2 linked regions of the Homo sapiens genome follow. Each later gene encodes a partner of the first gene's protein in a complex. Each region holds a gene or a part of one and is shown in the gene's direction. Other genes may lie near its edges.

The links. Proteins that work in one complex are often made in the same cells at the same time.
Region 2: LSM2 (region 1) and TXNL4A share a complex: the UniProt entries of both Homo sapiens proteins name them as parts of the precatalytic spliceosome.

Annotation. Positions count from the first base shown.
Region 1 is NC_000006.12:31,803,497-31,809,461, reverse strand, and holds the start of LSM2 (U6 snRNA-associated Sm-like protein LSm2), read left to right. Parts: upstream 1-2,495; 5' UTR 2,496-2,704; coding exon 2,705-2,707; intron 2,708-3,319; coding exon 3,320-3,387; intron 3,388-5,965. UniProt on the Homo sapiens protein: Plays a role in pre-mRNA splicing as component of the U4/U6-U5 tri-snRNP complex that is involved in spliceosome assembly, and as component of the precatalytic spliceosome (spliceosome B complex).
Region 2 is NC_000018.10:79,975,064-79,978,563, reverse strand, and holds part of TXNL4A (thioredoxin-like protein 4A), read left to right. Parts: intron 1-862; coding exon 863-966; intron 967-1,776; exon of another isoform or gene 1,777-1,846; intron 1,847-3,500. UniProt on the Homo sapiens protein: Plays a role in pre-mRNA splicing as component of the U5 snRNP and U4/U6-U5 tri-snRNP complexes that are involved in spliceosome assembly, and as component of the precatalytic spliceosome (spliceosome B complex).

The DNA of each region.
Region 1 (5,965 bases):
CTGCCTCAGCCTCCCGAGTAGCTGGGACTGCAGGTGCCCCCCACCATGCCCGGCTAATTTTTTGTATTGTTTTAGTAGAGACGGGGTTTCACTGTGTTAGCCAGGATGGTCTCGATCTCCTGACCTCGTGATCCGCCCGCCTCGGCCTCCCAAAGTGCTGGGATTACAGGCGTGAGCCACCGTGCCCGGCCCATGAACTCATTGTTTCAATCAGCCACATAATTTTTGATCCTCAGACACCTTTAGCACAGATGGAACAGATGGCAAACTATAACTGCTTTTAATCAGTTACAAGCTGGTTTTGGAGTTTAGGACTCAACTGGGGGTGGAGGGACAAATCCTGCTTGATGTCCTGATGTCACTTATAGGTAAGGTCCAGGAGATTCAGCATCTATGCACTCACAGAGTTCATTGTTTACATCCATTACATGGAGAAAATATTTCTTTTCTTTTTTTTTTTTTTTGGAAACAGTTTCGCTCTTGTCGCCCAAGCTGGAGTGCAATGGCACGATCTCGGCTCACTGCAAACTTTGCCTCCCAGATTCAAGCGATTCTCCTGCCTCAGCCTCATGAGTAGCTGGGATTACAGGCGCTCACCACCATGCCCGGCTAATGTTTGTGTTTTTAGTAGAGACGGGATTTCACCATGTTGACCAGGCTGTTCTGAACTCCTGACCTCAGGTGATCCACCCACCTCAGCCTCCCAAAGTGCTGGAATTATAGGCGTGAGCCACCGTGCCCAGCCCCAGAAAATATTTCTATAACAAACTCTTGACAAATAAGTATGTCTATGCAAGATGACAAATACAAGTTTTATGAAGTCTCAGTCCATGAAAAAATATTTTTACCAGCTGGGCACAGTGGCTCACGCCTGTAATCCCAGCACTTTGGGAGGCCGAGGCGGGCGGATCATGAGGTCAAGAGATTGAGACCATCCTGCCCAACATGGTGAAACCCCGTCTCTACTAAAAATACAAAAATTAGCTGAGGACGGTGATGCGTGCCTGTAGTCCCAGCTACTCAGGAGGGTGAGGCAGAGGAATCGCTTGAACCCGGGACGTGGAGGTTGCAGTGAGCTGAGATCGTGGCACCACACTCCAGCCTGGTGATAGAGCGAGACTCCATCTCAAAAACATTTTTTTCTTTTACCTGTGTCCTAATACATATTTATAAAAACCTGGGGGATATGAGTTAGAATAATATGTAACTGCATTTCTGTCTGTTTGTGTTTGAAACATTTAACAGTGAAATGTTAGACTGGGTTATTTGTATCTGTGAGCCACAGTCTCTTTAGTTTTACACAGTCCTTTACAGGACAGTCTTGGCAAAAGTGTGTAAGAAATGCGGAGATTGAGGTTGGCTCCTTTGGAGAAATGTATTTATTGGTAACCTTTGATAAAATCAAAATTTGTGCTCCAGCTCCTCCTTATCTCTGGGACTGCTCAACGTTGTTTGTTTATAATTTTCTTTTTTCTAGAGAGAGTCTCGCTCTGTCACCCAGGCTGGAATGCAGTGGGGAGATTGTAGCTCACTGTAACTCTTGGGTTCAAATGATCCTCCTGCCTCAGCCTCCCCAAATGCTGGGATTTACAGGCCTCAACATTTTTTGTTTTTTGGGATGGAGTTTTGCTCTTGTTGCCCAGGCTGGAGTGCAATGGCAAGATCTCCACTCACTGCAACCTATGCCTCCTGGATTTACAGGCGCGTGCCACCACACCCGGCTAATTTTTGGGTTTTTAGTAGAGACAGAATTTCGCCATGTTGACCAGGCTGGTCTCGAACTCCTGACCTCAGGCGATCCACTTGCCTTGGCCGCCCAAAGTGCTGGGATTACAGGTGTGAGCCACTGCTCCCGGTCATTTTTTTTTTTTTTTTTTTTGAGACGGAGTCTTGCTCTGTCGCCCAGGCTGCAGTGCAGTGGCGCGATCTCGGTTCACTGCAACCTCCGCCTCCCAGGTTCAAGCGATTCTCTTCCCTCAGCCTCCCGAGTAGCTGGTATTACAGGAGCCTGCGACCACGCCTAATTTTTTTTGTATTTTTAGTGAAGATGGGGTTTCACCATGTTGGCTAGACTGGTCTCGAACTCCTGACCTCACACAATCCACCCACCTAGGCCTCCCAGAGTGCTGGGATTAAAGGCTTGAGCCACGGCCCTCGGCCTTTTTTTCTTTTTATCAGCTGAATTTAAGATTCAAAACATTTTTTAATTTTATTTTTTAAATTTTATGTTTTTACTTTAACAAATATAGAAAAGTGCACACTTCATAATCTTAACAAACTCCCCACAATTCTCGATAGGAAGTGTGTGTAGGGCACAAACACATCACGCTGTAGATGGCAGGATTCTGGAAAAGAACAAAATCCTTTGAGCTCAGGCGCTGAGTCCCGCCACCCGTCTGGCAGCCCAGGCTAGGGTCCGCGCCTGCGCAATGGGAGCCGGCCGGCCAGGGAGGAAGTCGGAATGAAGGAAACCCCGCCCCTTTCCCGGCTTCCTCCTCCCCTCTACTCTACCCAGCTTGCGCTCCCCAGCCGCAAGTCGGCCGCGCTTTGCCCGTCAGCGCTTGGAGCTTTCTGCGTCGCTTCCCGCTGCGCCTGCGCGGTCCCGCCTCGCCCCACGCGCGGGCTCGCGCTTCGGTTTCCCCAGACCTGCTCGCAGCACCCTGCTGTCTTCCCGGTCCGGCCCGCTGCCCGCGGCGCCAGCACCATGGTGGGTACCGTGACGTCAAAAGGGGGCGCCCTCGGGGACCTCGCATGGTTGGGGCGGGGGATCTGGCCTTTGTACCCCTAGGCTGGAGTTAGGTCCGGAGTTTTTATCTTCATCTTTAGTACTGTACTGTTTCTCAGGTTCATTGAGGAGGCACTGAGAACAAATGGGATATTTTTTCCATGATGAGGGAAAAAACCCCAACCCTGAGAGAGATTCAGTGAGGATAGCGGGAGACGGAAAAGTTAGACCTCAGAGCACTTCTCTGCCAGGCAAGCTTCGGCAGGGTGCGGGTGGGATATTTTCTACAATTCATTGAAAGGAGTGGGCAGGTACCCGAGAAAGGTGGTCGACTGAGAGAGCACAGTGGGGAGGCCGACGTATGCAGGGCAGAGTCTCTCTGGGACTTTAAGTGATGGGCTCAGTGCAGTGTGCAGAATAATTTGGGCTCCAGCCTTTCAGCTCTGTCAACCAATTATTCTTTCCTGTGAAATTTTGAGAACTGTCAGGGATGCAGTGGGGTTCACAATACCAGTATTTGGTAATACTGTCAAAGGACACTCCTCCCTACCATGCTCCTTCCCACATGATGGTTTTCCCCCTCTCTCCCAATAGCTCTTCTATTCTTTTTTCAAGTCCCTTGTGGGCAAGGATGTGGTCGTGGAACTAAAGAATGACCTGAGGTAGGTACCTGTTCCAACAAGTCTGTTGGGGGTGGGTGTGCCCAGGGCCCTGGAACCTCTTTAATTTGAGAAATATTTCAGGGCTAGGCGAGGTGGAAGATGTACAGAAGAAATAAATGGATAGGGTGCAGTGGCTCAAGCCTGTAATCCCAGCACTTTGGGAGGCTGAGGAAGGAGGAAAGCTTGAGCCCAGGAGTTTGAGGCTGCAGTGAGCAGTGATTACTCCATTGCACTCTAGCCCAGGCAATAGAGCAAGACCCCATCTCTAAGAAAAATTTTAAAATTTAGCAATAAATAAATGCCTTGTGCCTTAAATTTACAGATAAGCTTAGAGATTGTATCGTGTATTGGAAAACAATACAAAGCAATATATAGTTTAAAGAGTAAATACAGGTCAGGCGCAGTGGCTCACGGGCTGGACGTGTGGCTCATGCCTGTAATCCCAGCACTTTGGGAGGCCAAGGTGGGCGAATCACGAGGTCAGGAGTTCAAGACCAGCCCGGTCAAGATGGTGAAACCCTGTCTCTACTAAAAATACAAAAATTAGCCGGGCACGGTGGCTGGTGCCTGTAATCCCAGCTACTCGGGAGGGTGAGGCAGGAGAATCGCTTGAACCTGGGCGGCAGAGGTTGCAGTGAGCTGAGATCACACTGCTGCACTCCAGCTGGGTGACAGAGTGAGATTCTGTCTCAAAAAAAAAAAAAAGTAAGTACTAGGCTGGCCATGGTGGCTCACACCTGTAATCTCAGCACTTTGGGAGGCTGAGGCAGGAGGATCACTTGAGTCCAGGATGTCGAGACTAGTCTGGGCAACATAGTGATGAGACCTCTATTTCTATAAAAAATTAGCCAGGTGTAGTGTACATGCCTGTAGTCTCAGCTATTCGGGAGGCTGAGGTGGGAGGATCACTTGAACCCAGGAGGTCAAGGCTGCAGTGAGCCATGATTGTATCACTTTACTCCAGCCTGGTTGACAGAGGAAGACTCTGTCTCAAAAAAAGAACAGGCCAGGCCGGGCGCGGTGGCTCACGCCTGTAATCCCAGCACTTTGGGAGGCCGAGGCAGGCGGATCACAAGGTCAGGAGATTGAGATCATCCTGTTTAACATGGTGAAACCCTGTCTCTGCTAAAAATACAAAAAATTAGCCAGGCGTGGTGGCATGCTCCTGTAGTTCCAGCTACTTGGGAGTCTGAGGCAGGAGAATGGCGTGAACCTGGGAGGCGGAACTTGCAGTGAGCCAAGATGGTGCCACCGCACTCCAGCCTGGGTGACAGAGCAAGACTCCGTCTCAAAAAAAAAAAAAAAAAAAAAGAAAAAAAAGAACAGGCCATAGGCCGGGCACGATGGCTCATGCCTGTAATCCCAGCACTTTGGGAGGCTGAGGCGGGTGGATCACGAGGTCAAGAGAGCGAGAACAGCCTGGCCAACATGGTGAAACCATGTAGTGTATCTAATACCTAGCATAGGCCAGTTATATGATAGGTGCTTAAAGAAAGAAAAATAATATCCGAAGACGTATTGACTAACCACTATTCTGAATACATTTATTGATTGATTTCTCAAACACTGCTAAGTAATATATACTATTGCTGTTTTACACGAGGAAACTGAGGCTTAGATCAGCTATACCACTTGTTCAAGTCTACAAAACTAGTAAGTGACACAACTGAAATATGATTCTGTCCAGCTTTTTTTCTTTCTTTTTTTTTTTTTTTGAGATGGAGTTTCAGTCTGTCACCTAGGCTGGACTGCAATGGCGTAATCTCGGCTCACTGCAGCCTCTGCCTCCTGGGTTCAAGCAATTCTCTGCCTCAGCCTCCCTAGTAGCTGTGATTACAAGTGCCCACCACCATGCCCGGCTAAATTTTGTATTTTTAGTAGAGATGGAGTTTCACCATCTAGGCCAGGCTGGTCTTGAACTCTCGACCTTGTGATCCACCTGCCTCAGCCTCTCAAAGTGTTGGGATTACAGGCGTGAGCCACTGCGCCTAGTCCTACTTTCTTTCTTAAAATAATATTTATTTATTTAAAAATTAGAGACAGTGCCTCACTTTGTTGCTCAGGCTGGTTTCAAATTCTTTGAGTTCAAGCAGTCCTCTTGCTTCAGCTTCCCAAAGTGCTGGGGTTACGCGCATGAGCCAGCACACCTGGCCCTGTACTTATCTGTACAGTCCTTTAAATAATATGTACATTTAGGCCAGATGCGGTGGCTCATACCTGTAATCCCAGCACTTTGGGAAGTCGAGGCGGGTGGATGCCTGAGGTCACGAGTTTGAGACTAGCTTGGCCAACATGGTGAAACTCCATCTCTACTAAAAATACAAAAATTAGCCAGATGTTGTGTTGTGCGCCTGTAATCCTAGCTGCTCAGGAGCCTGAGGCTGGAGAATCACATGAACCCGGGAGGCGGACGTTGTAGTGAGCTGAGATCAGGCCACTGCACTCCAGCCTGGGCGACAGACTGAGACTCCATCTCAAAAAAAAAAAAAAAGTACATTTAAAATATTGATACCTGTTACCTCATTATCCTTTAGAAAGATGGGATCAATTGTATTCTCTTCCCAAAAGCGTCTTCCAC
Region 2 (3,500 bases), on another chromosome or scaffold:
CAAGATCTTGCCACTGCACTCCAGCCTGGGCAGCAGAACCAGATCCTGTCTCTGGAAAAAAGATAGCAGCAGTCACCCCTAGGTGTTGGGATTGGAGGTGATCTTATTTTCTTTTTATTTTTCTGACTTTTCTAAATCTCTGATAAACTTGCAATTAAAGAAAAAATAACAGAAAATGTGTTATATGCAGTATTATTGGAGGTACTATTAATATTTGCAAGTGTTCAGACCTAATTGCGGGGAAATGATGGCAGGATTCTACAGGTATATTTTAGAGCAGTTGTGAGATGCATGTAACTATTTGTAAAGGTTCATACAGATGATTACTAGATCAGCATAAATAATATGTCTGTGGACGTTTTCTGCAGGACTTTGATAACTTGTTACCTGAGTGAAATTTAATTCCTGGGCGATTCTGGGAGATGGTAAAGTGAGGCGGAAGGAGCCAGCGGCCAATTCCTGAACTATTCTGGGAAACGGTGGCGTGAGGCGGAAGGAGCCGGTGGCCAAGGTCCCAGTAGTGTCACATGATCTTCCCGCGTGTTTGCTGCACTGGGAAAAAATGTTGAAGAATTAGTTTGAAAATTGCCCCGTTGGCCAGGAGTGATGGCTCACTCCTATAATCCCAGCACTTTGGGAGGCTGAGGTGGGAGGATAGCTTGAGCCTGGGAGGTCGAGGCTGCAGTGAGCTGATTGCACCATTGCACTCTAGGATGACAGAGTGAGACCCTGTCTCAAAAAAACAAAACAAAAATTGCCCTGATCCACACAAATTCTTGGTTTTGTTTTTATAAATGTGCTTCTATAAAATGAAAGCCAAAGTGTTCTGTTATTTCAGTTTTTTTTTTTAATCTCCTTTTAGGTTAAAAATTTTGCAGTTATTTATCTTGTGGATATTACAGAAGTGCCTGACTTCAACAAAATGTATGAGTTATACGATCCATGTACTGTCATGTTTTTCTTCAGGTACGTTATCTTAAAGTTGTTACTGAAATTGAATATTGTCAGTTTGGAAGCTTAATGTAATCAAGATCTCTTTAGATTATTTTATTTTGAAGGAAGTTGGTTGTACAGTCATGTCCCAAAATCGTTTGTATCACCAGGCAATCAGTGTGAATCTTTGAAATAATTTTCAAAGTAACAATTCTAGTTTTAGCATTTACTCAGTAACAAATTACCCTTTTGAAATAACTTTGCGGGGAAACCTAGGTGAAGTGTAATTCAATGAAAGATGTTGTTACTGACATTTTAGATACCTGGAACTATAATCTGTTCATCAAAAATGTTGTAAAATCACAAATTTAGGCCGGGCACAGTGGCTCAAAGCGCCTGTAATCCCAGCACTTTGGGAGGCCGAGGTGGGTGGATCACAAGGTCAGGAGTTCGAGACCAGCTGGGCTAAGATGGTGAAACCGAGTCTCTACTAAAAATACAAAATTAGCCGGGCGTGGTGGTGCATACCTGTAATCCCAGCTACTGGGAGGCTGAGGCAGGAGAATCACTTGTACCCAGGAGGTGGAGGTTGCAGTTAGCCGAGATCATGCCATTGCACTCCAGCCTAGGCAACAAGAGCAAAACTCCGTCTCAAAAAAAAAAATCAAAAACCTAATTTATTAAATATGTTATCATCAACTTCGGTGTCCTTTTTTATATCCAAGAGGAACACCTGAACTACTTTGCTTATAAATACAAGATTATTTTATCAGCTCAAAAATTTCATTATGGAAATTTAATGGGGAAAGAAATCACCATCTGATGCTGTTTTTACTTGTTTAGTTACCATAGAGGTTGGTGAATTAGCTACATGAGCATTAGACCATTCTCCAAAAGTGGAGCCTCCTACTCGGTAAGGAAGGTCAGGTGGGTTGTATAGGGTATGCGTTAGTTTTGTATTCTTTGTAACAAATTAGCACGCATTGAGCAGCTTAAATCACCCCGCTTTTCTGAGCTCACAGTTCTGTAAGTCAGACATCCAGGCAGGGCCCGCTGGATTCCTGCTCAGGGTCTCACAAGGTCTGAACCATGGGCTGGGTGCTTATCTGGAGTGTTTGAGGGGCTTGTTTGGGTTGTGGGCCGAGTCTGGCTCTTCGTGGTGGTGGGTCTGAGATCTGCTTCCTTGCTGCTGTTACCTGAGGCCACTCTGCTGCCAGAGACCCAGTTACCCTCAAAGCCAGCACTGGCATGCCGGCACATTGAGAACTTTTCACACAGGTTCTCTGACCTGAAAAGTTCTGCCTGAGAAAATGCTCTGGTTTTAGAGGACTGTGATAAGATTAGACTTGCCCAAATAATCCAGGATAGTGACCTTGTTTTATTTATTTATTGAGATGGAGTCTCACTCTCACCCAGGGTGGAGTGCAGTGGCACCATCACAGCAAGCTTGAACTCCTGGCTTCGAGCCATCCTCCCGCCTCAGGCTGCCAAAGCGTGAGGCACTGCCGTGGTTCTGGGCGTCGGGATACGCTCCCCTGGACACGCCCTTGGCTTCCTAGGTGCCTCCTGTTAGGTTGAGAAGATCTGTGAGGTGCACCCTGCATTTCTTGTGAACTTTTCATCTTTCCTAGGTTTCAGCAAAGGTTGCGTGGCTGACCCTCATCCTTTTCTCTACTGTGTGTTCAGCAGCCATTTCTGAATTTCAGCCCCTTTGGCCATCCGGAGAGGCTAAAGAATTTATTCCTTTTGTTAACAGTTCTTACACTAATTTGCCTCTTTCCTCTCTTGAAGGCAGCACCTCCGAGACTTTGCTTGGAAGTTTCCGCAGCTAAATATCCCGAGTGTGTTGCTTTTGAGCTCTGACTTCCTATAACTGCGGACCCCGTGTCCCTGTTCCTCGGCCACTCTGTAACGGGGGTCCCCTTTTCTCCGTTTCCCAGTAACACACTCCTCACTTCCTTCCAAGCCCACACCAGGTGTTCCTGAAGTCCATATTTCTGTTAACAGCCTGTTCGAGGCAATAGAGGCCTTTTCTATTTTGCCCCTCAGAATTCTTCAGGTGAGAACAGGGAGGGCCGTCTTAGGTCTCTGCCCCCCACAGCGTGCAGTGGAGGCCAGCCTGGGGCTGGAGATGCTGTGAGGGGCAAGGAGGCTGCAGGCAACAGCCTTGGGTGGCGGGAGCAGCCTACTTAGTGTAGTTTGATATTTTTAGGACTGATGCTGTACTCAGAAAAGGAGATGAAACTTCCTTCTGCTGTTTCTGTGATTTAGAATTTTAAGACAAACGGTACTTTAGTTAACTTATGCACCAAACATATATCTTGAGCCCCCACCAGGTTTGTGGTCTAGTGGTGGAGCCTAATGTCAGATAAGACAGGATTCCCACTCTCATAGGACGTTGTCTGATAGAAACAGCTGAGTAAATTAGCAGGGGGTTCTGAAGAAGTGAAAGGAGGCAGATGTTTATGAGATATAAATACCGAAGAAGTACACCCAGGTCAGATAGGGCTGCAGGGAGGGTGCTACGGGCAGCCCCCAGTCATTGTAGAAGGAGCTTGGTGCATGCT